4 linked regions of the Homo sapiens genome follow. The protein of the gene in region 2 interacts with the protein of the main gene of each other region in a pairwise test. Each region holds a gene or a part of one and is shown on either strand. Other genes may lie near its edges. The genes, in order: TRIM72, PPP3CA, ABI2 and DCPH1.

Region 1 (8,533 bases), on a different chromosome or scaffold from region 2:
ACCATTCTGTGGTCTAGATCTTACCCAAGACCTCAAATGCAAATATGCAAATATAGGAGAGCTCCCAATACTCCTGCCAAAGCCATTTTTTTTTTTTTTTTTTTTTTTTTTGGAGACAGGATTGCCTAGGCTGGAGTGCAGTGGCAGAATCACAACTCGAACTCCTAGGCTCAAGCAATCCTTTTGCTTCAGCCTCCCGAGTAGCTGGCACTACAAGCATGAGCAACCATGCCAGGCTACAAAGCCACTTCTTTGCTGGGAGGTGCCTGACCATGGAATCAGTTCCATTCCTGCCTCAATGACTTGCAACCTGTTTCCTCCTCTGCAGATTGGGAACAGCAATCCCCACCTCAACAATTTGGCGCCCCCACTCTCCCAGGGGAAACTGGGGGACCCTCTAGGCGGTGTTTGCAGAGTCCCCTCCCAGCAGGAGCCACAGGGTTGAATAGGAGCTGCCAGATCAGTCTCCTTCCCGGGACATCCCCGGGGGCGGCAGCTCCACCTGCTGCAGGAAAGGTAGGACCTGATGGCTCCAGGCCCTCGGAGGCTCAGAGGCGCAGGGCTGAGCCATGGGAACGAAGCGCGAGGCCATCCTGAAGGTGCTGGAGAACCTGACACCGGAGGAGCTCAAGAAGTTCAAGATGAAGCTGGGGACGGTGCCGCTGCGCGAGGGCTTTGAGCGCATCCCGCGGGGCGCGCTCGGGCAGCTAGATATCGTGGACCTCACCGACAAGCTGGTCGCCTCCTACTACGAGGACTACGCAGCCGAGCTCGTCGTGGCCGTGCTGCGCGACATGCGCATGTTGGAGGAGGCCGCACGGCTGCAGCGGGCTGCGTGAGGGCCACTCTGAGCTGGTACGTGATCTCGGGACCCAACCCCGCTTCCTCGCCAAGGACCCACGCGTCAGGTCCCGCCCAGAGCCTTCCTGTTCCCCTCCTTCAGGGTCCCTCCTGGGGTCCTCCCTCAGACCTCCGGCCAGCCCCTCCCGGGGGCGAAGGGCTGGGCTGCCGCGAACCCTGGTGGGCTGCATCTCGCCCCACTGCCCCCTTCCAGGCTCCTGGGCTGCCTGGGCCCTGTTCCGTTTCATGGGTTCTGTGCTTTCTTCGCAGATAAAGACGGGCAAGGTTGGGCGAGGTTGGGTTTTTTTTGTTTGTTTGTTTTTTGTTTTTTTTTTAGCGGCAGCAAGATTTATTGCAAAGAGCAAAAGAACAAAGCTTCCACAGCATGGAAGGGGATCCGAGCGGGTTGCCCTGAGGTTGGGGTCTTAAGCACAGGTGTGCTGGGATGGGAGGGGTCCCGGGAGGAGGCTCCTGCCCTGAGCTAGGAGACCACCAGCTAGGACTGGGCTGAACTGGGCCAGGCAGGACTGAGAGGCTGGGTCCCTGGGAAGTCTGGGGGCCTCGAATACCAACGAAAGGACGGTGGTCTACCCCTTCTAGGAGGCGGGTCAAGGCAAAAGGAGTAATGCAACGCCTGTGAAGCCAGCCCCACGCGCGCACCAGTCGCGTAAGACAACAGCAGTGTCTCCACCTCGGGGACCAAGGACGCCTCCGTGCCTCCAGACCCCGCCTCCTCCAGCCCCTGCACCTGTCATTTATTCTTCCACTGCCCAATAAATATTCATGGCAGACTTTACTGGGGCTGCGCGCACACGTGCCCGCCGGTAGCTATACGTGTGTGCTTTTGCCACACGGATGACACGCACCAGCCAGTGTGCGTTCGTCTCTATTTGCCTCTGTCTGGGTGTCTCTGCTGGGTACTTCGGGACGCGCACAACTGCGTGTGGGCTCCCAAGGCTTTCGGGACTTCCAGCTCCACCCAGAAAAACATCCTGGACGGGGCTCTCGGTGCCACCCTGGGCCCGCACACATAAGTGCAGATCCCGGCTGCCTAGCCCTTACAGTCTCCCTTCTGGTGAGGCCCCGCCTGGGGACCGTCAGGCCAGCCCAAGTTCCGCAGCTTCAGGGGTGCGTGGGCCTCCGCTGAGCACAAGGGGACAACCCTGCCCCGGCCGCCTGGCTCGGTCCCGAACGCCGCGCCTCCAGTCCAAAGTGGGCCAGCGCCGAGCAGGGAGCCAGCCCGAACGGCCCACCGGGTGCAGGAATGCGAGCGTGGGCCGCAGGGGCTGGTCAGTCCCTGCTCCGCCTGGCTCCGCCCGGCCCATCAGACCCGCCCTGGGGCTCCGCCCGCCCATCTCCAGTTTCCTCTAGGGACTAAGGCCGGGAAACCTACGTTTGCTCAGCGCCCTTATCGCCAGGCTCCATCCCTGCGCGGCTTTCCTCTGCCAGCCCCGCCTTAAGCTCCTCAGACCCTCTTTCCTGGCTGCTTCGCCCCGCCCCCGCCCCCCGCAACTCCAGGAGCTCGTGAGCCTCTCTAGAGACTCAGAATCCAAATCACTGCAGCGACCTCCCCATCGGCCCCGTGCCACCGAACAGCCCCTCCGACCACGATGCGCGCGGATCCCGCACCTTGAGGCGTGCGTGGGCCTCGGCGGCAGGCAGGAGGCGATGACCGCGGTGCGAGCCGAGTGAGGCGCACACTCCGCACACCAGCGCGCGGTCCTGCTCGCAGTAGATGCTCAGCGGGTCCAGGTGCTCCTCGCAGTGGCCCTGCGGCACCTGGGCCAGCCCCTCCACCAGGCGCGCCAGCTGCAGGTTGGTGCTGAGTGCCTGCGGCCGCGTGGGGGCCTGGCAGCAGGGGCAGAGAACGGTGCCATCCGCCGCCGGCTCCCCGGCCACGCGGCCTAGGCAGGCGCGGCAGAAACTGTGGCCGCACTCGGCTGTCACGGGCGCGTCGAACAGCTGCAGGCACAGCGGGCAGGACAGCTCCTGGTGCAGGAGGCCGGGCGCAGCCGACATGGCGGGCCTGGGTGGAGGAGGAGTAGGTTAGGGGGACCCCGCGGCGCCGCGCTCCCGGCCCAGCCCTGGCCCAGCCCTAGCCCAGGCCGGGCCCGCCGCCCCGCAGGGAGAAGCCCCAGCCTGTAAAGACCTCACATCCTACACTGGATGGGACTCTGACGGCCAAGGGGAAAGAGGAACTCGGTCTCAGGCCCAAAAGCAGCCTCCACTGCAATTCTCAGCTCCAACCCCAAAAATATGCCCTATCAGTCAACCCCAGTTCCTGAACACAAGCCCAGATTCTAGCCCACTGTCCTTGCCCTCGCCTTAGCCCCAGGCCTCAGCCTCTGACCTTAGTCCCGGACCCAAATTCTCCAGAGCCCCCACTCCGAGACTCCCCTCCCTCACTTTACCAAGATACCCAGACCTCCCCTCCCCCTCTCTCCAGCCCACGGGACTCACAGGTCTGGTTGGAGATCTTAGGCTGAAAGAGTCTCGAAGGAGGACCGGTCAGGGTTGAGCTTAGCTGGACTGGGGTCAGGGCTGGGTCCAAGGATCTGAGACAAGCAGCAGGCTCCAAGCAAGGACAGGGACTCACAGGGGCAGCTGGCAGTGGACACCACGCGTGATGGGCACACAGTGCTCAGCGGAAGACCCTCCCAGACTGAGCCATGGCCCCAGGACTATATTTAGCTGCCCTGCCCAATCCCTCCCATCACTTCCGGAAACCGTTCTAAAAGTGAGGGCTGAGTAGTCCCTGGGCACACATCACATGACAGGGCCACCTGTCTTGGCCCATCCACTGTTCTCTCCCCGGCCTGCCTGGAGTCAGAGCTCAGAGCCAGCGGGGAGCCAGGGCCTTTCACACCACAGAAAAGACAGAAAATTGAAGGGGGTCTGCCCTTTCTCCCCCCACTCCCACCTCCACACTCTCCAGCTCCTTCCTCCTTGCTGGCAGCCCCTCCCCAGCCTGTCACCCACTCATTCCCCAAGTTTATGGCTGACCAAGGTCACCCTGGCAGGATTACCCCACCTGCAGGAGGGCAGGACCTCACCCCACCCTGAAATGTTTTCTTCCTCCAGAGCTGAGGGGAGGGTCTTTTCCACTTTGGTCTCTCTAGTACACCCAGGACAAGCCTGGGACAAAGTAGGCCTCTCTAAATGCTTGGAGAATGAATGATAGAGAGACATTGAACAAATGAATGAACTGAATCCAGAGCCTGCAGCCCAGAACTCAATTCTGCCCTGGTTCCTGTATGTGTATCTTTCAAATCTCAGCTGAAATTTCATTTAAGTGGCGCTGGGATAACTGGCTAGCCTTATGCAAGAGAATGAAACTGGACCCCTACCTTTCACCATATAAAAAAAATTAACTCAAGATGGGTTAAAGATTTAAATGTAAGACTTCAAACCATAAAAATCATAGAAGAAACCGCAGGAGAAATACTATTCTGGATATCAGCCTTGGTAAAGAATTCTTGACTAAGTCCTCAAAAGCAACAAAAACAAAAATTGTTAAGTGGGACCTCATTAAACTAAAGAGCTTCTGCACAGCAAAAGCAAAAGCAACTATCAACAGACAGACAACTGAAGAATGGAAGAAAGGCCAGGCGCGGTGGCTCACGCCTGTAATCCCAGCACTCTTGGGAGGCCAAGGCGGGTGGATCATGAGGTCAGGAGATCGAGACCACAGTGAAACCCCGTCTCTACTAAAAATACAAAAAATTAGCCGGGCGCAGTGGCGGGCACCTGTAATCCCAGCTACTCAGGAGGCTGAGGCAGGAGAATGGTGTGAACCCGGGAGACGGAGCTTGCAGTGAGCCGAGATCGCGCCACTGCACTCCAGCCTGGGGTACAGAGTGAGACTCCGTCTCAAAAAAAAAGAATGGAAGAAAATATTCACAAACTATGCATCCAACAAAGATCTACTATCCAGAATATATAAAGAAACTAAACATTTCAACAAGCAGAAAACAACCCCATTAAAAAGTTGGCAAGGGCCAGGCACAATGGCTCACACCTGTAATCCCAGCACTTTGGGGGGCCCAGGCGGGTGGATCACTTGAGGTCAGGAGTTTGAGACCAGCCTGGCCAACATGGTTAAACTTCGTCTCTATGAAACATACAAAACTCAGCCGGGTGTGGTGGCAGGTACCTGTAATCCCAGCTACTTGGGAGGCTGAGGCAGGAGAATCGCTTGAACCCGGGAGGCAGAGGTTGCAGTGAACCGAGATCGCACCACTGGACTCCAGCCTGGGTGACAAGAGCGAAACTCCAACTCAAAAAAAATAGCTGGGCATGGTGAAGAACACCTGTAGTCCCAGCTGCTCGGGAGGCTGAGATGGGAGGATTGCTTGAACCTGGGAAGCAGAGGTTGCAGTGAGCCAAGATCATGCCATTGCACTCCAGCATGGGCAACAAGAGCAAAACTCCGTCTCAAAAAAAACAATAAATATTAAAAAAAAGAAAAGAAAGAAATTTCATCTAGAATAAAAACCAAAGTGCTAACTGTGGCTTACAAAGCCCTATCTGCTATGACCCCATTAATCACTCTGACTCTTTTATCACCCCTTTCCCCATTGATCACTCGGCATCAGGGACTTTGCACTTACGGTCCCCTCTGCCTGGAACACTCTCCAACCCAGGTACTGCATGGCATCCTCTTTTTCCTCCCTCAGACTTTGCTCAATATTACCTTTCCAGCAAGACCTCTCCCAATTCCCTGATTTTAAATCTCCTAACTCCCCAACATCTCACTGCCTGGCTTTCCTTTTCTCCATAACATTTATCAGCATCTGACATGCAATGTATTCTACTTGTTTGCTGGTTTCTTGTCTGTCTCTTCCTACGGAATAGAAATTGTGTTTACTGCTTGTCTCCAGCTTAGACTAAAGTGTGTGACACACATTAGGCGCTCTACAGATACTAGGTGAATGAATAAACACGCAAACTCAGTCCCTCTCATTTGGCCTCTCCATCTTTCTCTTAGCTTCCCTCAAACCTTTTCCTGGTTTTACTCTTTCCTCTCTCAACTGCTGTCTCTCTCAGAATGAATTTTTGTTTCTGTTTCACTCTCTTAATCTCCCCTTTGGACTCTCCCTTTGCCTGTCTCTTAGGTTCTTAATTTTTTCTTTTTCTTTTTTTTTTTTTTTTTGAAATGGAGTCTTGCTCTGTCGCCCAGGCTGGAGTGCAGTGGTACAATCTCGGCTTACTGCAACCTCCACTTCCCAGGTTCAAGCGATTCTCCTGCCTCAGCCTCCCGAGTAGCTGGGATTATAGGCACGTGCCACCACGCCCAGCTAATTTTTGTATTTTTAGTAGAGACGGGGTTTCACCATGTTGTCCAGGCTGGTCTCGAACTCCTGACCTCAGGTGATCCACCCGCCTCGGCCTCCCAAAGTGCTGGGATTCCAGGCATGAGCCACCACACCCGACCGCTCATTCCTTCTTGCATGTTATGTGGTGACAGCATGAACTTCTGCTGGCCTGCTTAAGAAGGTAGCTACTTCAGGCTGCCTGACACCTTGTTTAACCTAGGCCCTCGTTCAGGCTGTAAACATTTGGTTCTTTTAGGAGGAAAAAAAGTTCTATTATTCTTTTGGATAAGAGCAATTACCTGTATAAATGACTGCAGATAAAATTCTGAAATTAAGATGTGAAAAGTCTCAGGAAGCTGGTGCTCTTTTTTTTTTCTTTTCCTTTTTTTTTTTTTGTTTTTTTGTTTTTTTGTTTTTTTGAGACGGAGTGTCGCTTTGTCGCCCAGGCTGGAATGCAGTGATGAGATCTCGGCTCACTGCAAGCTCCGCCCTCCTGGGTTCACGCCATTCTCCTGCCTCAGCCTCCCGAGTAGCTGGGACTACAGGCGCCTGCCACCACGCCTGGCTAATTTTTTGTATTTTTAGTAGAGACAGGGTTTCACCATGTTGGCCAGGATGGTCTCGATCTCCTGACCTCGTGATCCGCCTGCCTCGGCCTCCCAAAGTGCTGGGATTACAGGCATGAGCCACTGCGCCCGGCCAAAGCTGGCGCTCTTTACCGGCACACTGAGAAATCCAGGGGAGTTTTGTGTCCCCACCTTCTTTGTCCTTAAGTCTCTGAGGTCTCACTGTGTCGCCCAGGCTGGAGTGCAATGTTATAATCATAGCTCACTACAGCCTCGACCTCCCAGGCTAAAGTGATCCTCCCACCTCAGCCTCCTGAGTAACGGGGACCGCAGGTGTTCACCACCATGCCTGGCTAAAAGCCCCTGATTTCTTCTCTTCCATTCTTGATGGCTCAGACGCAGCCTTGTGTTAGCAATAGGAAGAGGTTTGAAAGAGGGTATATCTGGAGCTGGTCTCTGAAACCACAAGTTGCTCATGCTCAAAAACTCAACTTCCAGAACTTAAATCTCATCCAGAGTTTCCAATATTGCCAAGTTGGGACTGAAGGTCCTGCTGTCATCTATAGGAGTGGGTGTCTAAGACAGGTGGGTGATAGTCAATTCAATCCTTCCCTGCAGATGGGCCAGGACTGGCCTCTGATCCACGGAAGGAACATTGATTGTCTTAAGCAGACTGAGAACAAGAAGAGGCAATAAGCCATGTGCAGGGAAGGAGGGAGTGGTAAACCGGTATAGCTGGCCCTATGAGGTCCCTCAGACCTAAAGAGCTAGGGATAGATTTCAGCTTGTCCTAAGGGAAAGTTTCCCAACAGCTCAAGCAATGAGTGCCTTGGAAGGTAAGAGCTCCTAATTATTGGGTACATGCAGAGAGAGGCCAGAAAGCCCTAGTCAGGGCTGCTACAGAAGCAAGTCCTGAATGCTGACTTCATGAGCTCATGCTGGGCACCCCTGGGAAAATCACCTGCCTCTCTGGGCCTCAGCACGTTCAAATACAATATGTGGATAAATAACACCATCCTGGCTGGGTGTGGTGGCTCACACCTGTAATCCCAGCACTTTGGGAGGCCAAGGTGGGAGGATCACTTGAGTCCAGAAGTTCAAGACCAACCTGGACAACACAGCGAGACCCCCGTCTCTACCAAAAACAAACAAACAAACAAAACAGTATAGTGGCTCACGCCTGTAGTCCCATAGTCCCAGCTACTCCAAAGGCTGAGCCAGGAGAATTGCTTGAACCCTGTCTCAGAAAGAAAAGAAAAAAAAAACCATCCCATAGAGTTGTCATGAGGATTAAACTGAAAAATATGCCACATAGGCCGGGTGCAGTGGCTCACACCTGTAATCCCAGCTCTTTGGGAGGCCGAGGTGGGGGGATCACTTGAGGTCAGGAGTTCAAGACCAGCCTGACCAACATGGTGAAACCCCATCTCTACTAAAATTATAAAATTAGCTGGGCATGGTGGCTGGTGCCTGTAACGCCAGCTACTTGGGGGGCTGAGGCAGGAGAATTGCTTGAACTCAGGAGGCAGAGGTTGCAGTGAGCTGAGATCGAGCCATTGAACTCCAGCCTGGGCAATAAGAACAAAACTCAGTCTCAAAAAAAAAAAAAAAAAAAGAAAGAAAAAAAAATATGCCACATAAACAGGGACAGTGTGCTGGCACCCAAGGGCTTAGGAAGCAGTGACTGTCACTTCCAGGTTCCAGTCCTGACTAGAATTTCCTTGTTGTGTGACCTTGGGCAAGTCGCTTAACCTGATTTTCTCACCTATAAAATGAGAATCATGTAAGGATTAGTATCAAGACTATGTATTT
Region 2 (7,691 bases):
GAGAGGCTGGAGAGGGAGTTCCACATTAGAGATAGCCTAAGCTAGAATTCTGGTGTACCTTCCAATTCTGGGAGTCTCATTTGTAGGCCTAAATTCAGGCATGAGCAAGTGTAAGAGATCAAAGGTCTCCCCTACATCCCCCAATCCTTCTCCCCAGCAAATAGAGGGTTCTGAGCCAGACAGAAAATTAGATTTCCATGGTTCCTTCCAGCTTCAAAATGCCATAATTTTAGGCTTAGACTATTCTTCAGCACACATAAAGTTCACATTTACAACAAAAATAAATAAGAATCATCTATTCTCTCCATTCAGAAGATTCCCATAAACCATCCCAATGTTAAATGCCCCTAACTGGTTAAATTTTTTTAAAAATCACCTAATTCTCTGATGCTTCTAAATATTTTCTCTTCTTTAGTTGACTGGGGTGATGAACAACTTCTGAGTATGATCCACTACAGAAAGAGACTTTCTAATATTTGAAGCCTCTAGTTAAATCACCACTCACCCTTTTTTGTTCAGACTGAATAATCTCTCACTTCCTGTCACAATTTATTTAAAGTCCTTTAATCATCTTGGGGACTGTTTTGTAAAACATACTCCAAAATTTAACACATCCGTTTCTGGAAGGGCACGTGGAACGAGATAGAGTACTCAGGGAGAATTCTGACCAGAGGCGAGGACAACAGAGATTCCCTCCTGGTTGCTGAATGCAAATCAACAGAAGCTAACAGTGAGATTTTATGTAGGAAACTATAGTTTCCTTAGTCTTCAACTCTTTGAAATGAAAGTATTTCTGTGTTAGTGAGACAAAGTATATCCCGGCCCATGTGAGAGACTGGAAATATTCATTCAGAACAAAAATAAAATGGAGCTTGGAAAGGCCCAGCTGGCTTTCTTTAACCAGAAGTCATACAACCACATCTGGGGTAGCGCAGCTTTAGCGGTCTTCTGTAAGGATGGGACTAAGAGCAAGTGCCTCACTATACTGCCACTCTGTTGGTGTGGAGTCCAGTACTGAGCTTTTCTAAAAACACTCACCATGCAGACATGCCATCAGGAGAGGTGACTCATGAGCAGCCTGTACTCGTGATGGGCCTGAAGATTTTTTATTGGTATATACACAGTAAGTTATCACCTATCGGGGTGTACAGTATGTTTTAATCTCTGTTCTAATTCCTAATCTTATACATTTTTATTCATTTGAATTTGCACATTGTGAAGACTAATATGGGCCTCCCATATGCTTGTCAAATGGCTCTCCCCTCAATTTAGTATCATCACCTGTCTTCCTGAGAAAGAAACCATCACTCACCTTTGAGGAAATCAACCTATACACCTTGTGACAATAATCCATTAAAAGTCAAGCACTCCCTATGGGAAGGCCACTTCTGCCAGTTATGCTTCTGCATGCTGGCTACCGAGCAAAATCCATATAATGCCAGTTAATAAAATACAGCACTTCAAAAACTCACAGGAAAACACACTTCTACAAAGACTGGAGCTTACAAGTCAAGACTCATCAGACATTTGTGTACTGATCACGATTTAAGATTGACAAAATTTCAAAACATAAAGGAACCCCATAATTTAGAAATTTAAATCCATCTTATCCTTTGTTATTTCATTCCTGTAACAACTATGTATCAAATGCCTATTCTACAGCAGGCCCTGTGCTAGAGCTAAAGACACAAAAGTAGATAGAACTTCTGTCTCTAGGACTTTCCACCTCCTGGGGAGGAGAGGCAGACAAGGAAACAAGTCATCACAGCAACATGCTCTTATCAAGGTGTCCTCTGTGAGAAGGAAGAGGCTCAATTCCTTTATTCTAAGTGAAGGTGTCAGGAGATGCAGGTCTCAAAGGAGGTAACTTCTGAACTGAAGCTCGAAAGAAGAGAACTGAATGATCAGGAGAACATTTGTTATCCCAATAATCAGGCCCAGCAGAACAGGAATGTGTGTAACTTTAATAGCATTAAATATACATGAACCAACAATGCCAGATTTATCATTTTTTAAAATCAAATTCCTTTGTAAAAAGCAAACAAAAAATAAAACAAACTTGAATTCCTGACTCAGGTTCCATCTTTTTAAGAATATATCTTGCTTTTAATTTAACTTGATAAAACAGCATAACTTACAAGATGTTTTAAAAACAAATGTCAACGGATGGCTCAAAGCCCACTTGTGAGAATCTAAGGAGACAGCAGCGTTAGTGCCACCTTTTTCTTAACTTTTCATAGCCCATGTATCTTTCCACTGGATGGCATCCAATGACATTTTGGGGGCCAGAGAAGGGAAGGAGGTCATGTTGGAGAAGGCAGCATTTCTGGATTACAGAAGCATTATAGGAAATGATATATTGAGATGTAAACAGGGAAAGAGGTTTTTTCCAATTTGTTCTTTTTCATGAAATTTACCAGGTCATTTTATCTTCAAGTCCAAATCTAGACAATAACTAAAATACACAAATCATCCAATAATCAAACACTCAGTGATTAACATATTTTTTCTCATTTGTCAGAAATTGACCAGCCTAAAGGGGAATACAATAAAAACTGAAAGACAGCTGTCAGGTTCAAGCAAATAAATTAAATTGAATAGAACTTAGCCTTTTACATTCAGCAGGGACAAAGTGAGTTCAAGTGACCGAACAGAACAGCTCTCATTCTAATTGTGTAACCTTATTAATGCCTCCTTCTCATACTCCATGCCCTGATTGGGCTGGAGAAAGAAGCACTCCAATTCGCCAGTCACCATACAGAACCAGTTACAAATGGAACTTAATATAATACACTCAAAATAAAAACAATTTAGAAGGCTTCAGGAGGCACATGAGAATTTTACAATATCCATCTCATTCAAAAGAATTTATTCAGTGCATTTAATAAGCAAGGCATTGAGCTAGGGACCAATAAGACAATGACCATTTTTTCCAAACTAAAACTCTGAATACAAATATTAACAATTTTATGCAACTTCCAAGTATATGCAGCAACCAAGACACATAGTTTAGACACTGACATACTAGAATTTCCAAAACATTCTGATATTACATAGAAAGAACTGGACATTTTAAATAAAAACTACTACTAATTCTTCCCCAAAGAAAGGAAAACTGGGACAATAAAATCACCACAGAAAGACTCTAAGTCTAAGAATCTTAGAGCTGATGAAAATTTTTTTAATTTAGCTCCATATAAATAAAACTCTCTCTTTGAACATCAACCATCATTCTTCCGGTTTCACAGTTGTCAAAAGTACCTGAAATTGACAAACATTGTAAACTAGTATGTCATAATATTGAGATAGCTTTTATAAATCCCTGATATCTATTTGTTTCCCTCTTTTGCAGACAGACACAAGCAAAATTTCCAGTTGCAAGAGACAGAAGTTCACAGACAGGTAGACCATTTTTTAAAATAGAGTCATAGTATATTTTGCTGTGAGACAAAAGCATGGATAAGGAAAACAAAAAGGACAGCAAAGTTCTATTCCTCTCTATGATGGTCTCAAAAAGAATCTACCTGAATTCCAAAAACATAGCATTTTAATAATTTATTGCCACTTTGTCAGTGAGGGCTTTTATTTTTTTAATATCTAAAGCTTCCACTACCCGAGTGCATATTTGTTAAAACGGATTTGAGATACCAGCAACTGGGCTAGGTCATAAAGTTGATAACCCATCTGATTTAAGCCATTATTCAGAACCCCTAACCATGGAGGAATACACAATTGTTATTTCACTTCTCATATGAAATATAATTGATGGATTCATATAAAAGATGGAATTATTGTAAAATAAAATGATTTTAAAATGCTGAAAATGTCAAGAGTACTAAAGACTTAATTTACAAACTGAAATCCTATTTCATTGCCTACATCAGTCCTACCTAATGACTGCTTTAAAAATAGGAATGCAACACCTCAGAATCACTGGCTGATATTTTCACCTGAGCCTGCTCTAGAAATTAACAAAATCATCAAATCTGAAGATTTTGTTTGTCAAACCAGAGCATCAGTGTGGGTCATTAAGTGGAGTTCAGAAAAACAGGCTTAAGACAACATCCTTCAAAATGAAAGTAAATAACATTCTTTTGCAGGAGAGTATACTATTCTATTTCTGTGTATATATTTACCTGAACAGAAAGCAATGTTTAACAGTATTTCTTTATAAACCTCAGGCCAAGGTCAGACTAAATTATAATATTTATCACCAGAATTTGATGTCTGCTAAAAACAGAAATATAAAAAGCTTCCTCTCCTAATCAAACTATTTTACATAGTTAATTATTTAGTAAAACAAAATGCGAAATGAAATGTGAAGATATCTTAAATATACCAAAAGAAGTGGCCATTTTCTTTTTTTCTTTTTCTTTTTTTTTTTTTTAAGAGATATGGTCTTGCTATGTTGCCCAAGCTTCCACCTCAGCATCCCAAAGTGCTAGGATTATAGGTGTGAGCCACCACACCTGGCCAGTGGCAATTTTCAAAAATGTTTTCAAGCAAGAAAAGCCTCTTTAATAAAGAAAATAATGTGTTTACACTTACCTGTAACCATTCTATCTATTCTGTCTCCACTTCTTTAACTATAAAAATAAATGTCATCATAAGCTACTCTTGACCCAAGGCACTCATGGCTTTCAATGCTAATGGTTCTGACTATTCTCAGGTGACCAGAAAATACATAACACGTGTCATTTCTAATTCTGTGTTAGCAGTGACTGAATCGCCATTACCAGGCAGTGGACAAAGTGTTAACCACACACTCCCCATTTCCCATTTGATTATCCTTCGGTCCTCACAAGTTGACAGTGGATACAATTACTCCCCTTTTATGTATAGAGAAAGTTAGCCTGTGAAGTTATAACATATACCAGTGGAATTACAGAAAGCTGAAGTTCAAGGTCTCACCATATCCCTCTTGTATATCAAGAGACTGCTACATCAGAAAGTTGCTGGAAAAAAATTGACAAAATGATTTTTAGTAATTATCAAAATTCTATATCATGAATCACCACCATTCTTCATAGTTCTAGAAGTATTCAAAATGGTAATTTAACCATATTTGCTAAAAGGAGAGTGAGTATCTGCAAAAATGCTGTTTTCCAATGAGGTCACCCTAAATGGATTCTTTATTTGGTGTCATAATTAGTTTCAAATTTACACATAGCTGACACAAAAAAAGATAAGGAAAAGCATGAGAGGCCAATTACAAAAGTTATAAATGAATGGTCTATCAAAATTATATTTCATCTCGCTAAAATTACAAATAAAACAAAGAGACAAATAGATTTTAAAAGGCATATTTTTAAACAAATCTTAGAGTAAACCTCATTAATTAGATTCTAGATGTTAATTTTTTCCTATTTTAACTGGATGTCTTAAGATAAACTGTCCATTTAAAATAAGGGTTCTATCCCACACTTCTCAGAAAAACTATTATCTTCAAAATGTTGATTATTCTAATTGATGGCATTTTAGAATCACTGGAATTCCCCTGAATCCCAGTCTCAATTGTTGCATTAATCATTAAATTTACTGAATGTTTTTACAACAATGCACTTGTGTTATATTCACTTTATAATAGTCCCAAAAGGAAATGTTAATAAATAGACCAACCTAACTCGTAACGAACAGGATGAATTTGCATACTGTTCACTAAGTATTGAAAAGAATTTGTTCTCTTGGTATATTAACAATGCTGGAACTATGTTGTTTATACTTTTTGGTTATCGGACCCCTTTCTTCACATCCAATGCTGATGTAAACTTCAGCCAACAAACACTGGTGTTTTTTCACAATAAATTTAAATTCATGATATTGAATTAATAAAGTTTCACTATACTCAAATTGAAAACCAGATACATGAAACTCAACTGATGGTAACAAAATGTCAGTAAAATAAATTCACAAGCTCTTCCTGGAACACCACAAATAAATGACATTATTTACTACTCTGTTGCATCAAGGTCTAAACACGACAGTTACTACGAATGTGACATATTTGTTTTCTTTTTAAGTAGTATTATCAGTCTCACCCAGCTAGAAATACTAGTGGCTGGAATCCTTATTTACTTAATAATACTTAACTAGCATCTTCTTGCTTCTATGATCTTAGCATCTTTCAGAATTCTCCTATGTGTACTCTGTCTACATGAAGTACGTAAGCTGGCAATACACCTGAAAAACAGCTCATTCTCTATGGCCAAAAGCAACCTTACACAAAGCACAACAACGCATTATCTATAGTTTCTGAGAGATTCCACAAAACTCTTCTCAGAAATTTATCCCTCAACAGCCTCCCATAGTTTCTAAAATTTCTACCATTACCATCGGTTTGAGTTAAGGTAGAAGTCCCATCACAAAATACTTGGAGATGGGAACAGAGGGAAGGTAGGTTAAGAGATTTAACAAAGCCAAATACTCATTATCACATAGGGTTTAATTTCCTCTAAGTATTTTTAACTATCACATAGCAAAGTTCCATGACCAATAGGGAATGCTAGGGCCAGACAAAGCATTCTAGGCAGGAACAGAGAGAAATGAAGAAAAGCCAAAGTTTGAGACAAGGCCTGTAGAGTATCACTAAGAGAAAAATCAGGACGGGGGTCAAGGGGAGGAAGACAGTTATTCTTCTATTTATTGCCCTCGGTTTGCTGTATGTATCTTTAAAAATATAATGTAAAGCAATAAACGGACCATATTATTTTGATTTCCAGCAAAGGTCATTACCAAGATGTTTTCTCTGAATTTTTCTACTTTCCATTGTTTTAATCCAAGAAGAGTCAAAATGATACAGCACTAGTTTTGCTAACTGAAGTAACTTTCTCTCCTGGGATAATCTAAACAAATACTTTTCATCTCCACTGCCATCATTCTCTTTCATTTTTAAGGTTTAGAAAACCGATCAGGGTCTCTGAATACATGCTAGCAGATTCTATAAACCTCAAAAATAACATAGTTGAGACAGACTCAACCTACGTCTCTAAAGCTGCATTCTAAAAGTACAATTAAGAAAACAGTCACATCATATTACTACAAACCACAAGCACATCTTTATTTGTAAATAGCAATTTCTTATACAACAAAAGCCAGATGACACTAATAAATATAACTGTAAGCAAATGCCATGGCATGCCATGGTAATAACAATCTGAATATTTATTTTTGTATGTATATATAGTAAATAATACTACACATACTTCGTAAAAAAGAGAAAACTTATGGAGCACAAATACTTCCTCAAAGATAATTTCTTTTCTGTATTAAAGAATGAGTTAAATAGCCATTGAGATGAAGTTCTAACAAAATTTCAAGTAAATAATGGTTTCTAAACTCCATATTATCTAATTTTTGCAAATTAAATCACTTGTTAATATGTTTCACATCCAGCATACGCGTACTTTCCATTCATTCAGTACGTGTATACATACTCAAGGGGAAATATTATTTCACAGAAAGCTAATAATCAAAATAGATTATCTCAAATAACTAATAATAAAAATCTTATGTATGACAAAAGGTTGAATCCAACCTTGTATAATGCCTTTCATGCCAATAATATTCTACAAGAAAACAGGATAAACAATAACAGTGTATCCACCTTAAAATCAGGATTCATCAACAAAACTTCTATAAACAAAATTTCACATTTCACATCTCACATCAGGATCTCTATCAAAACAAATGCA
Region 3 (7,691 bases), on a different chromosome or scaffold from region 2:
TTCTTTTTAAATATTTTATACATTTCCTTCAGTTGAAAAGAGAAAAACGTTACTACTATCAATCTCTGTTTTAGCAATGGGACTCAAAATTTAGTGTGGTGACATTTTAAAATTTAAAGCATAAATATTGATTAATATTAATTTAATAGAAATGAACTTAGATTTTAAAATAGTTTATTTCTTCAGTTTAGCATCTGAAGTATATTTTACACTTTCTCTTTTTTGATTATCATTTATTTTAGGATGCCTTAGGTATATAATTGGTACACTCTCAGGATGATAGCTCTTATATGATTTGTTGATTTGTTGGGAAAGTTGATAAATAGAACGTGGTGACAGTGGATTTGTGCTGATCCAGCTGTACATTTGGTTGACCAGCAGGGGTTTTGATGCTGCCTGGACCCTGCAGTAGATGAAAGTTAATTCACAGGATCAGTGATCAAATGGTCAATTTAGCCTTTTTTTTTTTTTTTTTTTTCTGAGACAGAGTCTCACTCTGTCGCCCAGGCTAGAGTGTAGTGGCGCGATCTCGATCTCTGCTCACTGCAACCTCCGCCTCCTGGGTTCAAGCGATTCTTCTGCCTCAGCCTTCCAAGTAGCTGGGACTACAGGTGTGTACCACCATGCCTGGCTAATTTTTGTATTTTTAGTAGAGACGGGATTTCCCCATTTTGGCCAGGCTGGTCTGGAACTCCTGGCCTCAGATGATCGACCTGCCTTGGCCTCCCCAAAGTGTTGGGATTACAGGCGTGAGCCACCGCACCTGGCCAATTTAGCCTTATTATAGCATCATGTCTTAGCCACTAGCTCGAGTTAACTAACCCAACACTCATTTTATTGTGTGGAAATGTAATTTTTGCCTATAAAGTAGAAAAAAATCTGTTTATCATGTGTAATAAGTGTTTTTGCTCAGTGTTCTTTTTTTTTTTTTTTTTTTGACACAGAGTTTCACTCTGTCGCCCAGGCTGGAGTGCAGTGGCGCGATCTCAGCTCACTGCAACCTTCGTCCCCCGGGTTCAAGTGATTGTCCTGCCTCAGCCTCCCGAGTAGCTGGGATTACAGGCACGTGCCAACACGCCCAGCTAATTTTTGTATTTTTGGTAGAGATGGGGTTTTGCCATGTTGGCCAGGCTAGTCTCAAACTCCTGACCCCAGATGACCCACCCACCTCGGCCTCCCAAAGTGCTAGGATTACAGGCGTGAGCCACCGTGCCTGGCCCCCTAAGAGTCATTTTTAATAAAAATTTAGATAGTTTCATTATTCTAACCTCTAGAAAATGGGATAGTCAATATTTTTTCTAAAATATGATAAACAGGTATAACTACAGTTTGCTGATATTTATCAGATCAATTTTATTTCTTGCCTATACAAAGGATTTAGTAGTTGGTAGAGACTTTTTTTTGAGATACATGTAAGACCTGCGTTTTTCTTCATTTATTAATATACACACCTAGGCCGGGCACGGTGGCCCACGCCTGTAATCCCAGCACTTTGGGAGGCCGAGGCAGGCACATCACGAGATCAGGAGATCCAGACCATCCTGGCCAACATGGTGAAACCGCGTATCTACTAAAAATACAAAAATTAGCTGGCTATGGTGGCGTGTGCCTGTAGTCCCAGCTACTTGGGAGGCTGAGATGGGAGAATCACTTGAACCTGGGAAGCGGAGGTTGCAGTGAGCCAAGATCATGCCATTGCACTCCAGCCTGGGCGACAGAGCAAGACTCTGTCTCAAAAAAACAAAAATTACACATATAATGCCTAATATGTTTGAAGGTGTCCAGGAATTAAAAATGTTTTGGTTAACTTGGAATCTACGTTTTTACAAATAGAAGAATTTTTATTACAATATAGTTGTCTTAATGTTTTGGTAGATGAAATAACTCCCTATTTGTTACTTCCCTGAAATCTGAAAAGCCAACTTGTTGATATGTACGTTTTTCTTTTTGTTAGATAAAAGTTACTGATTTTTGTGAGTGACAGTTCACATAGATGCATAGTAAAATCTTATTGTTTGGATTAAGAGTAGAATCATCCCATAATATGGATTTATTCAAAAGAGAAGAAATTAAGAACTTACCTTAAATTTTTACCTGAAATATTTTTGAACAATAGGAGACATATTAGTAGCTTTCCTTTTCTTCTCTTAATCAATGTGGATACTCCCAGAGTTCACTAAAAACTTCATGAGAGGTTTACAAGGGAATATTATCAGTCAGTTTCATCAAAAGTAATTACCAAAATGATACAAAGATTTAAAATTTTTATTTAATAAAAATCATTAGAATACATGCTCATTGTTGAAAAATTATTGGAGAATACAAGTAGGTATTATGAAAGAAATGGAAAATTGCCCGATCATCTTGAATATATATCTGGTACTCATACTTTTAAATATTTTTTGTATGCACAACTATATATCAATATTTTTGTAGAAATGGGTTTATGTTCTATATTCTGTACCTTTAAAAGAACCTTTTAAGGATGCTGGGCTTGACTTTTTTTTAAATGGATGTCATATACTATATTGGGAGGAGGTTGGTTATATTTATAGGTCGAGTTCTGTATGTTCTTGCAAATGGGAGAATCTTAGAATACCTAGAATGAAGGAGAAAGAGGTCAGTTGAGAGTAAGGAGACTGAGTAGAATTTGGGAGACTGAATTCCCCATAGATTAAGATGACTCAACTCATTTGAAATTGATCAAGGCTTACCATTCCTCAAGAAATTAGTCCCTAACTCTCAGCAGAGACATTTGGTGAATAGATTTTCAGTGACAAATCAGTCATCTTCAAGACCTTTGACAAGATTGCAAAAACAGGCTAATTTATATTTGAGCCCCTTGCTCTTTTAAACATTTTGTCATTTGTACACTTCCTACACCTTCTTGTCCAAGGAACTTAAGTGACCTCATAATTTCCGTTATTGATCCAGGAAATCCAGTCTCACCTCATTTCACCCTTCCTTGAAGAGCTTCCTGGTTCAAAATTGCTCTTTACCAAAATAATTAATTAATAAACTGTTCATTTATTTTTTCTTTTCTTTTTTCTTTCTTTTTTTTTTTTTTTGAGATGGAGTCTCACTCCTTTGCCCAGGTTAGAGTGCAGTGGCGTGATCTTCGCTCACTACAACCTCCGGCTCCTGGGTTCAAGCAATTCTCCTGCTTCAGCCTCCTGAGTAGTTGGGACTACAGGCATGTGTCAGCATACCCAGCTAATTTTTGTATTTTTAGTAAAGACAGGGTTTCTCCATGTTGGCCAGGCTGGTCTCGAATTCCTGACCTCAAGTGATCCACCCGCCTTGGCCTTCCACAGTGCTGGGATTACAGGTGTGAGCCATCGTGCCCAGCCTCATTTACTTTTTCTTCTTACCTTGGTATGGGTAATGTGAGAATGTATGATAGGTTTACTTTATTTAGAGTCATCTTTTCTCACCCAGAGAATAATATATAAACCAAATTGGTTTACTTATGTGTAAAATATGTAGTAGAGATATTTTTGAGCATGAGGTGCTTTTGGTGTTACTTTTTCTTTTAAAATGCAGGGAATTTAATAGTATGCAGTTTCAGGGTGTGTAAGGTAATCTTTTGGTGGATGAAATATATTTGGTGGATGAATATGCTGTGATTTGCTTACACCCACCCCAAATCCATTTTGCAGCACCCTACTCACTGTCCAGAGATTCTGGGAAAAAAACAATAGAGAAGACAAAGCCAGTCTAGACACCATTTGACTCTACCTTGTGAATATTCTGAAAGTTACATTAGGCTAGTTGTAGATTTTTTTTTTTTTTGAGACAGAGTCTCTGTCGCCCAGGCTGGAGTACAGTGGTGCGATCTCAGCTTACTGCAACCTCTGCCTCCTGGGTTCAAGCAATTCTCCTGTCTCAGCTTCCTGAGTAGCTGGGATTACAGGTGCACGCCACCACGCCTGGCTAATTTTTGTATTTTTAGTAGAGACGGGGTTTCACCGTATTGGCCAGGCTGGTCTCGAGATCCTGACCTTAGGTGATCCGCCCGCCTCGGCCTCCCAAAGTGCTGGGATTACAGCGTAAGCCACCGTGCCTGGCCTAGTTGTAGACTTTTGATAGCTTATGGTTGAATTTTTATGGGATTGGTTAATAGATTGGATTCATGAGGTAGCATGTAGGGCAACACATTCTATTTTGGATTTTTCATTTACTTTGTGTTTCCTTCCAGATACGAAGCTCCTAGAAGATGGAGTCATTTCTTAAAAATTTCTATATTTTCCCATTAGCCGTAGGATGTTCTCCATATACTAGCCACTCATTAAATAGTTGCTGAATGTAAGAAATACAGACTTGAATATGCAAGAGCCTATGCACTGAATTATTTTTATTTTATTACTTTATTTTATTTTATTTTTTGAGACAGGGTCTCACTCTGTCACTCAGGCTGGAGTGTAGTAGCACGATTATGGGTCACTGCAGCTTGCACTCCCAAGCTCAAACAGTCTTCACACTTCAGCTCCCAAAGTAGCTGGGACTACAGGCTTGTGCCACCATGCCCAGCTAATTTTTTTTGTTGTTGTTGTTAGAAATGGGATCTCACTATGTTGCTCCGGCTGGTCTTGGAACACCTGGGCTCAAGCAATTCTCCTGCCTTGGCTTCCCAAAGTGCTGGGATTACACCTGTCAGCCGCCATGCCTGGCCTTGAATTATTTTATAAGTAGGATATAATTACATGTAAATTTACCTTGCAAGTTTTTTCCTATTTGATTTTTTGGTGACATTTATGTTCTGTAAAGTTTTGCAGTACTTTTCATATTTGCATAATTCATGCAAGGAACATAGTTTTGCTTTTTTCTTCTTAAGTAATATACTTTGTAGAAAATTTGGATGAGGTAACAGCTTTGTTTTGAATCATTTACAACATGAATTTTTTCTCATTTGATTTTTAAAGTCAGGTTTATTGAGTTTTAATACATATATGGTACAAGTCACCCTTTTTAGGTGTAAAGGTTTATGAATTACAATAAACTTACATAGTCATGTAACCACCACAATGTAAAATTTTCCTTGTACCCTCTGTAGTCAGTCCTGTCCCTCCACTACTAGCCTTTGGTAAACACTGATATATTTTCTGTCCCTCTAGTTTTTGCCTTTTCCAGAATGCCATATAAGGGGCATTATGTAGTATATAGCCTTTTGTGTTTGACTTCTTGGTACTAGAAGTCCTAATACATTTGAAAATCATCAGTGTTATTGTGTTTTGTCAGTACTTTGTTCCTTCTTATTACTGAGTAATATTCTAGAGTATGAAAGAATCATAATTTGTTCATCCATTCACCAACTGATGGATTTCTGGATTGTTTCTAGTTTTAGGCAGTGGTGAATATGGCTGTAAACATTTGTATACAGGTGTTGGTGCAACCTAAGTCTTCACTCTTTTGGGTAAATTTAAGGGAAAAGATCAACTGTTGTACCCTGGTAACAGTGGATGTATCCACATAGGCTGCATAGGCCAGTGCTTGAACTGCATCTGATCTGAATCTTGGCCGAGCACTTTGTGATCCTCTTGGAATATAAGATTATGGAAGTTTGCGAGGACCTTATGTGAAGCCCTTTCTCAATCTCTTCATCTGCCGAGGAGGCTGTACGTGATAACAGTGCCTCATCACCTCCTAGTTCCCATGAGATGAGGCTCTCTATTGTACCCTTTTAGGTAGTAGCTGCAGGCTGTAAGACTTTAGTTGCAGCATGGCATTGGCTCCTCCGCAACAGAGTGTCATATCTATGTTGTAGTCACCTGGCTCCTTTTGTTTTAGTATTGCTTTACACAAGGGCTGTATCTTTTACTACTATTCCTTCTGCCCTCCATGTAAATGGTAGGCTTTCTGAACCTAACAAGCAGTTGGGCAGGTCTATCACATTGCCTTCTCTTTGCCTTGACAATAAATATCTAATAGTGGGATTATTACCGTATGGTAAATGTGTGTTTAGTTTTATACAAATTGCCAAACTCTTTTCCAAAAACGATGGTACCGTTTTGCGTTCCCACCAGCAAAGATCCAGTTGTTCTTCATCTTTGTCAGCATTTGGTTTTGTCAGGTTTTAAAATTTTAGCTATTCTCTTGTTAGTGATGTCTCAAAGGCCATATATGACAAGCCTACAACTAACATCATACTCAACCATGAAAAGTTGAAACCTTTTCCTCTAAGATCAGGAATAAGACAGTGGTGCCCAGTGTCACTAGTTCTATTTAATCAAGTACTGCAAAGTACTAGAAGTCCTAGCCAGCCAGTTAGGAAAGAAAAATAAACAAAAGGCATCAAAATTGGAAGAAGTTAAATTGTCTCTGTTTGCAAATGACATGATTCCTTATGTATACAAAACCCTAAAGACTCCACCAAAAGACTGTTAGAATTAATTAACGAATTTAGTAAAGTTGTAGGAGACAAGATCAACATACAAAAATCTGTTGTGTTTCTACATATTAACTACAAACGATCTGAAAAATTAAGAAAACATTTCCATTTATAACAGCAGAAAGAATAGAATACTTAGGAATAAATGTAATCAAGGAGGTGAAAGGTCTGTACACTAAAAACTATAAGACATTTATGAAAGTAATTGAAGAACATGCAAATAAATGGGAAGATATCCCGTGCTCATGAATTGGTAGATTTGATATTGTTAACATGTCCATACTACACAAAGCCATCTACAGATTTAATGCAATCTCTATCAATATTCCAATGGTATTTTTCACAAAAATAGAAAAACCCTAAAATTCATAGGAAACCACAAAATACTTTGAATAGCCAAAGCAGTTTTGAATAAGAACAAAGTTGGAGGTATCATACTTCCTGATTTCAAACTATATTACAAAGCTATAGGCCTGGCATGGTGGTTCATGCTTGTTATCCCAGCAGTTTGGGAGGCCTAGGTAGCCAGATCACCTGAGGTCAGGAGTTCAAGACCAGCCTGGCCAGCGTGGAGAAACCTCATCTCTACTAAAAATACAAAAATTATAGGGCATGCTGGCACACGCCTGTAGTCCCAGCTACTCAGGAGGCTGAGTTGGGAGAATCGCTTGAACCCAGGAAGTGGAGGTTGCAGTGAGCTGAGATCATGCCACTGCACTCCATCCTGGGCAACAGAGCGAGACTCTGTCTCAAAAAAAGCTATAGTAATCAAAACAGTGTGTTACTGGCATAAAAGACATGTAGACTAATGGAACAGAATGGAGCCCGGAAATGTAGCCACATCTGTGCAGTCAACTAAGCTTTGATAAAGGCACCAGGTACACAATGGGGAAAGGATAATTCAGTAAATGGTATTGGGAAAACTATATCCACATGCAAAAGAATGAAATTTGATTGTTATATCACACATACAAATTAGCTAGAAATGGATTAAAGACTTAAATGTAAGATCTGAAATTATAAAACTCTTTGGTATGGGTCAGATGTTTGTTCCCTTCAAATCTCTTGTTGAAATGTGATTCCCAGTGTTGGAGGTGGGTCTTGGTGGGAGATAATTGGATTATGGGGGCAGATCCCTCATGAATGATGTAGCACCATCCCTTTAGTGATAAGTGAGTTCTTGCTTGGTTCACGTGAGAACTGGTTGTTTAAAATTAGTCTGGGAGCCCCCCCACCATGTGACATGCTGGCTCCACTTCTGCCATGATTACACCTCACCAGAAGTACGTGCCAGCACTGTGCT
Region 4 (7,691 bases), on a different chromosome or scaffold from region 2:
AAGTTAGAATTAACTTATGAGGTAACTTTTATGTAAGCAAACATCACAGTTGTAAGAAATGCCTCTCTTTACAAAGAGTCATTAAGATGCGCATTTTCCTAGAGCTATTATTTCATGTGCCCAAAATCAAGCAAAATAAAATCCCATGCTTCCTGGAATATTAAATACCATGCAGTGTACTATTTAAGAAAAGAACAAGGTTAACTAACTAAAAGCAGAACTCACTTATTTTTTGCTCCCTAGCCAATTAAAAATAAGTTCATTAAAAGCACTTGAAATTATATATTTAACCTGAAAAAAAGTTGCTAAAATTCCAATATAAATGTAAATATCTTTAACTTGCTTAACCCAGCTATCCCCAAAACAGTGTAGTGGGGCAAAATGTTCAAAAGAAAAATCATCCAGTGCACGTAGATGGGCACCAAGAAGCTAAGCTTCCCTGAGCGCGTACAGAGCCGCCAGGCGACTCAATTCACGTGCTCCTTTTCTGGGGATGAAAAGGTGCTCACCAGATCTTTCTATGCAACTGAGAGCTCCTAAATCAAGTCAAAGGGGACCATCGTACTGAAATATTCCATATTTTCCAGTGGTCCACCAGCTGGGCTCAGAGGCCAGGAGCTGTTCCCCTTGCCCAGGCTGCAGACCAACCTGAATTTCAGCTTTTAATGTTCTTATGGTACAGAGTGGTGCAGGATGGAAGCCATTCAGAGCCTGATGAAATGGAACAGAAAACTCCCATTTTCTGTCACCTGTCAACTTCCTGTAATTCAAATCACCCTTGAATAAAATTAAATGTGCCTTCTGTAGTTCAGCATATAAGTCAGGTGCAACCTGAGGCATTGCACAGTACTCATGAGGCAGAGTCCAAAATATATGATTGTGGTAAACCCATTTACCCATTTTAATATACTCTTCCCAGTCAGCCCCACACTTGGACATCCACTTATGATTACTGTGTTTTACCTGTTCAATTAACCAATTAAAATCATGTATAGTAGTATCAGAAACAAACCATGGAATTGTTTTTCCATAAAAATGAACCTCAGTAGCCAGTTCAGAGGACAACAAGAAGTCGGCTAATATTAAATCTGTAACAAGCTCAAATCCAGAATTATCGAGAACAATATACACTCTAGTAGCAGAAGCTTTTTCTCTTGTTTTCTTGCAATTGCTAAGCAATGACCAAAGATGTTCCATATCATTCAATAAAATGAAAGGTTTTAGGTCTTCCAATGAATTTAGTACATTGGTATTCTGAGAACTACTTTCTCCACCTGAGAGAGACAGATCACACTTATTTCCCCACAGTGAAATCTGAAAAAGAAAAAGTACAAAATATTCACCCTTCTTCTGAATAGCCAACAAAACTCCATTATGTAGCGGGATGGGGGGACATTGCTAAAAAACTACTAAATATCTACAAAACTCTTTACATGACCATCAAATCTATACTTTCTCTAACAATGCACAAAAATTATTTCACATGATGCTGTATTAACAAGATAAAACTGAAATTTTTAATTCATCAGTATGTAATGGACTTAAAAAAACTGGTTTCAATTATTTCAGCACTCACATTGTTTATTCAGAATAAAAGTTTTTGCAGCTTGCAGATATTAGAACATCATCGGATGTGTGAAGAGAGGCTCAAAGTTGCCCATATAATCCAGAGTCAAGAGAAGAAATAAAAGTTTATTTTTTCCTCCTTGGCCCTGCAGAACTGTCCAGTTTCTTTCACTAATTGCATAACCTTAGGACGTGACACCTCTCTGGGATTTGGTTCTCTCATTTGTAAAATTTAAAAAACTGAACAAAGTGATATCTAAAGACGCTACTTTTTAAACAAGGTCATGTTAACTAAAGACCCATTGTAATCAATTATCTTATTCAGCTTTAAATTGAATTAATACTCAATTACATTTTGTAGAAAAACAGTATGTAGGCCTATTTTTTTTTAAGCCATAAAATTACACGTTTAGGACTTCCAGCTCGACCTGGGTTCAAACTCAGCATCTTCAGTTTATGATCATCAACAAATTACTTAAGCTCTCTAAGGCTCAAGTCCTGCAACTGAAAAACGAGATACTAGTACTTACCTCACAGAATTATTGTGAGAATTGATATAATGCATGTAAATAATGTACCAAATACCTGGCATATAGAAGTACTCAATAAACACTAGCCAAAACAGACTCTACTCTCATTTGTGATTTTTTTTTTAATAAAGATGGGGTCTCACTATGTTGACCAGGCTAATTTCCATCTCCTGGCCTCCAGCAATCCTCCTGCCGTGGCCTCCCAAAATGCTGAGATTATAAGCATGAGCCACCTTGTCAGGCCCTCATTTGTGATTTAAAATAAGGAGAATGCATGTTCCAACCAATAGGGTTTTGTTTTTTTTTTTTTTGAGATAGAGTCTCCTCTGTCACCGAGGCTGGAGTGCGGTGGTGCGATCTTGGCTCACTGCACCTCTGCCTCACGGGTTCAAGCTTTTCTCCTGCCTCAGCCTCCCAAGTAGCTGGGATTACAGCCGCCCACCACCACGCCTGGCTAATTTTTTGTATTTTTAGTAGAGATGGGGTTTTACCATGTTAGCCAGGCTGGTCTCAAACTCCTGGCCTCAGGTGATCTGCCCACCTCGGCCTCCCAGAGTGCTGGGATTACAGGTGTGAGCCACCATGCCCGGCCGAACAGTATTATTTTAAAAAGAGATAAATGAATAAATTTTTTTTAAAAAAAAGGCTTAAATAATAACTAAAGTGTCCAAGGTCACCTTTTTCTAGAGTTTCCTGAAGAAATTCATACAATGGTGTCCACGATGGCCTTCAGCGACTGAGAGCAGGTTCTGTGCTAGCCTCCTGCACTTTCCCTTCACACCGTCTTCCAGTTTGTAATGGCATAGCTCTTTGTGCAATTACTTCATTGTCTATATTCCCTCAAGATTACAAGTTTTGATAGGGAGGATCAGCCTGTTCTTGTTTTACCACTACGTGCCCAGCACCTAGAATGGCATTTGACACAGTAGCCCCAGAAATGTGTGTGTCGACAGTGGGAGAGTGCTATGACTTTTGAAAGAGATCAACATTCTCTGAAAACGAGAATGTTTTCAAGCTTCCCTTGAAACGTTAACCTGTTGCTCACTGCGGACACCAAATGGAGGCAACTCTGGCCCCCTTCACTTGGGAGCACAGTGACAGTGTGAAGAAGTTGTTAGCTAAATCAGATGACAGAAAATAGATGCATGCTCATTCTTCTTCATAGTTTATTATACTATGGGACAAAGAACACATTCAAAGAAGATGATTCCCTGAAAGAATGGGCTAGCTAGGAGTCAAGAACTAGCATGCCAGTCTTTTTTTTTTTAATTCCAAGGCTAAGCATAAGGCAGAGTTAACAGGAAAAAACAAAAAACAAGGTTTATTAGTTAACAATGTCCTGGGCCAGGCAAGGTGGCTCATGCCTATAATCCCAGCACTTTGGGAGGCCAAGGTGGGCAGATCACCTGAGGTCAGGAGTTCAAGACCAGCCTGGCCAACATGGCGAAACCCAGTCTCTACTAAAAATACAAAAATTAGCCAGGTGTGGTGGCATACGCCTGTAATTCCAGCTACTCAGGAGGCTGAGGCAGGAGAATTGCTTAAACCCGGGAGACGGAGGTTGCAGTGAGCTGAGATCGTGCCACTGCACTACAACCTGGGCAACAGAGCGAGACTCTGTCTCAAAAAACAAAACAATGTCCTGACAATTTTTGTTTTGAACTCAAAATATGCCTTTATTTGTGACTTTGCTTGCCCTCGGGGTCTCACCAGGGCTTCGTCTCCAGGTATAATCTGTTAGCAAGTTCTGTAGCTTCTATGTTCAAAGAACACCCAGGCTCTGGTGATGTCACTAACTCTTATGCTACCAACTTGGCCCCAACCTCCCTCCCCAAGTCATTTTCAGACCAGCTCTCCCCATTTCCACCTTCAGCCCCTGCAGTCTATTCTCAGAAACATTCCTTGAAATAGTCAAATAGCATTACCTCTCTGTTCAAAACCCTCTGATGGCTTCTGTTTCACTTTTAGTAAAAATTTATTTAATACAAGCCGTTCTGTGTCCCTTCCACCCCGCTACCTCTCAGTAACTACAGGGTTTCCTTGCAATTTTTCTCACCTCTCCATGTACTCCGCAGACATACACCTGACTTACTCCTTCCCTGCCTTCAGGTCTGTGGCCTCAGCCTCCATGGACCCTTCCCTGGCAGCCCTGATCCCTTCTCCAACATTCCCAACGCCCTTTTCCTGCTTTATTTCTCTTCATAGCACTTTCTAACATTTCTTTTTGAAAGTCTTCCTCACTTTTTCTGGAAAATGTGAGGGCTGGGGATACTGCTGTGTACCACGTCTCCTAATAGTTCTGATTCTAATAATGTGTTGTAAATTTCAGGATGTTTGCATGAATTAAAAACTAAACTGAATACAAGATAAAGAAATGTAATGAAACTGTATTAATGGGCCAACTGAATACCCGAGTATTATCACCTACCGATGCTAACAGCAGGCTGTATCCCAGGCTCTGTGCTCAGCACTTCACATGCAAGCATCTAGTTGAATTCTCACATCAAATTACACAGTACACATTATCCTCACTGAACAGAGGAGGAAACTGAGGCCCAGAGAAATTAAGTGACAGGCCTCAGGTCCAAACACAAATTAGCCACAGAGCCAACACACACCCAAGTCAGCTGGGAGACCAAATTACTATTAAGAATTCTTTCAAGCATGACAAAAGCTAAGCAAATTACTATGAAGTATTCTCTCAAGTATGACAGAAGCTAGGAAGTCAGATAACTTCTTTGCCACTAAAATCATAGCCAGTGAGAGCAGAAAAATATTTCAAACCCATTTCTAGCAATTAAATGGATTTTCATCTTTTAACACCACTAGATAAAAAATCATCAATTATAGCAAAGAAAAATATTTACATGTTTTGTTAACTGTATAGCAGTTTATTTTCTGTTTAAATAAAACATACTCAGAAGATTAATGATCACATTTACCTGCAGAAGTTTAAAAAACTCATCTTTCAGCTGATTTTCATCTAGGTCTTCAATAGTTCTTATCAATTGTTGCAGGTGAGTACATAAAGCAATGATGGATTCCTGTGACCCATAGAAATTTTGCTCTTTTGATTCTTTAAATACATCAAAGTAATCGATTGGTGGACTAAAGTAGGAGAAAAACAAAGTGAAACATTTTAGTTTGTACATTTGGATAACTGCAGTTCTTGAAAGAAAATAGCACCATACAGTCTCAATAATCAGTGCTAACAGAAACTAGATATAACATTTATCTAATTAACTAGAAAAACTTAATACTAAATAATCAAATTACACAAAAATCTCTCAAACTCATTTTAATTGTCAAAAAAGTTCCCAAATCAAGTATTTTTCTGGACATATTAAATAGTGATAGTGACTATGCTCATAATTATCTACCTAGCAGGGATTCCAGGGCACAAGAAGGAGAAAGATAAATTTCAAGACAACTGCTTTAGTTCAACAAACATTTTTTAACCACCGATGTGGCAGAGTTCCAGTAACAAATGTATAGAATATAAACAGAATATTTGAATACAATGCAGCAATCATTAACAGAATGAAACACAGAGTATGATGGAAATACAATGAGTACTTAAGATAAATCAGACAATACTATTGTAAGTTTTAGAAGAATGATAATTTTTTATCACTAATTTTAGGTATTTTTGGGCAACTTTAACCAAAGGTGATATATGTGGCATGGCTACACCTTCATGTTTTCCAGTGAGAGATTAAATCATATTATATTGGCCTAAGAAAATCATAACTAAGGAGATATAAATACTAATATAATAATCTTTACTGAATTGAATATAAAAGACATTCAGATTATTGGGTCTTCCAAATTAGCTACTTTTTCCATGGGTCATTCATGTTAGGGTAAAAACAATCTAACACTGATGTAATCGGCTTGATTTGTTTTGTTTTGTTTTTTTAAATAACATACCAGTATTTAAACATCCAAATGATGGCTGCCTCCTTCCAGCCAGTCAGTCACCTCGGGAAGCTACACCCTTATTCCAAGGGCGCTGCCATTGCTCAGAGCACTTTTGGAATTCCTCTTTAGGAATTTTCTTCAGAACCTATGGCACATCATTAAACCTCCTGTCAGTGATCACATATCTTCATCCTTTGGAGTCAATTTATTTTTGGAAACAGCCAAAAGTCACTCGGAGTGATTTCAGTAGAATGAGGTGTGTGATCAAATTGGATAAAAACTTTTTTTTTAATCAAAAATGAGTAAAAATACAGGAAGACTAATTTTCATTTTGAGGCATGTAAACTGGCTCTGAAAGAAGTTCCAAATAATTCAAAGATGGTTTTAGCAATGGCAGCACCGCTGAAATCAGTCAGTCTCTCAAGGTGACTTAAAAGGATAAAAATCATTCGGATGCACAGACCCAATCCGGCCCACCACCTGTTCTGTCTGACTCACATGCTAAGAGTGGTTTTTATATTTTTGAATGGCTGAAAACAAAGTGAAAGAAAAGTAGTATTTTGTAACACATGAAATTCAAATTTCGGTGTCCGCTGAATAAAGTTTCTTTAGAACACAGCCATGCTCATTCTTACATATTATTTAAGGTTGCATTCACACGACAATGGCAGGTTCGGCAGCTGCAACAGAGACCACATGGCCCCTATGCCTAAAAGATTTACTACCTGGCCCTTTACAGAAAGTTCTAATAAAACATGTTCTAATGTTTTATTAACAAACCATTCATTAAAGTCACATCTCATATTAAGAATGAGCCTTATTTTCGTATTTAAGAGAGTAAACTCACATAACTATATATAAATTCTCATTTTAGAATGTTTTCTATTTTAGAATCTACTAAAGCTGTGTATGTACACACACTATGACCCAGTGATTCACTTCTAGGGAGGGATATATCCAACAGATGTATTCATACATATGTTCAGCAAAAAAGTGTCAGAATGTTTATAGCAGCATTCTTCCTAACAACTCCAAACTGAAAAGTACTCAAATATCCATCACAACGAAGTAAACAGATTGTAATATGCTCATAAAATGCAATATTATAAAGCAATGAGAATGAATGATCTATAATTATATTGTAACATATGGATGAGTCTCACAAACATAAAAATGAGTGAAAGAAGCCAGACACAAAACTATACACTGTATCATTTCATTTCAGTAAAGTTAAAAAACAGGCAAAACTAACACAGGTCAGAACAATGGTTATCCTTGAGGAGTAATGAAGGCAGTGACTGGAAAGGGACTCAAAGTGGACTTTTGGGGTCTGTAAGGTTCCGTCTCTTGATCTGGGCACTGGGTACACAAGTATGTTCTTGAACACATAAGACATGCACATTTTTCTATATGTATATTACACTTTATTAAAAAGTTTTTCTAAAAATCTAATATTTTCTCTGTACTTTCATCTTTCAATATCTGAAGTGTATTTACCTAATATGTTTAAATTTCACATATGGCTAAAACTTTGAATCTTAATTTAGACTGGCAGACTATTGCATGTTTCAGTGTAAAATGGTAAATCAATATAAACATGTCTTTTATAAAAGCTGGTCAGTCTGGAGTTGCCATTGACCTAGGATAGGGATCCCCCATAGAAGAACCTAAAAA

What was found.
Region 1: the proteins of PPP3CA (region 2) and TRIM72 interact in binary tests that used the Homo sapiens proteins (3 or more experiments, as listed by UniProt).
Region 3: the proteins of PPP3CA (region 2) and ABI2 interact in binary tests that used the Homo sapiens proteins (3 or more experiments, as listed by UniProt).
Region 4: the proteins of PPP3CA (region 2) and DCPH1 interact in binary tests that used the Homo sapiens proteins (3 or more experiments, as listed by UniProt).

What each region holds. Positions count from the first base shown.
Region 1 is NC_000016.10:31,209,065-31,217,597, reverse strand, and holds the start of TRIM72 (tripartite motif-containing protein 72), read right to left. Parts: upstream 3,480-8,533; 5' UTR 3,301-3,479; intron 2,867-3,300; 5' UTR 2,860-2,866; coding exon 2,470-2,859; intron 1,637-2,469; exon of another isoform or gene 1,441-1,636; intron 856-1,440; exon of another isoform or gene 840-855; coding exon of another isoform or gene 570-839; exon of another isoform or gene 463-569; intron 1-462. Other genes in the region: PYDC1 (pyrin domain-containing protein 1), read left to right, coding at 570-839. UniProt on the Homo sapiens protein: Muscle-specific E3 ubiquitin-protein ligase that plays a central role in cell membrane repair by nucleating the assembly of the repair machinery at injury sites.
Region 2 is NC_000004.12:101,336,836-101,344,526, forward strand, and holds part of PPP3CA (protein phosphatase 3 catalytic subunit alpha), read right to left. Parts: intron 1-7,691. UniProt on the Homo sapiens protein: Calcium-dependent, calmodulin-stimulated protein phosphatase which plays an essential role in the transduction of intracellular Ca(2+)-mediated signals. Many of the substrates contain a PxIxIT motif and/or a LxVP motif.
Region 3 is NC_000002.12:203,330,891-203,338,581, forward strand, and holds part of ABI2 (abl interactor 2), read left to right. Parts: intron 1-7,691. UniProt on the Homo sapiens protein: Regulator of actin cytoskeleton dynamics underlying cell motility and adhesion. Functions as a component of the WAVE complex, which activates actin nucleating machinery Arp2/3 to drive lamellipodia formation.
Region 4 is NC_000006.12:151,461,966-151,469,656, reverse strand, and holds part of DCPH1 (damage-control phosphatase ARMT1), read right to left. Parts: intron 5,205-7,691; coding exon 5,039-5,204; intron 1,315-5,038; coding exon 547-1,314; 3' UTR 1-546. UniProt on the Homo sapiens protein: Metal-dependent phosphatase that shows phosphatase activity against several substrates, including fructose-1-phosphate and fructose-6-phosphate.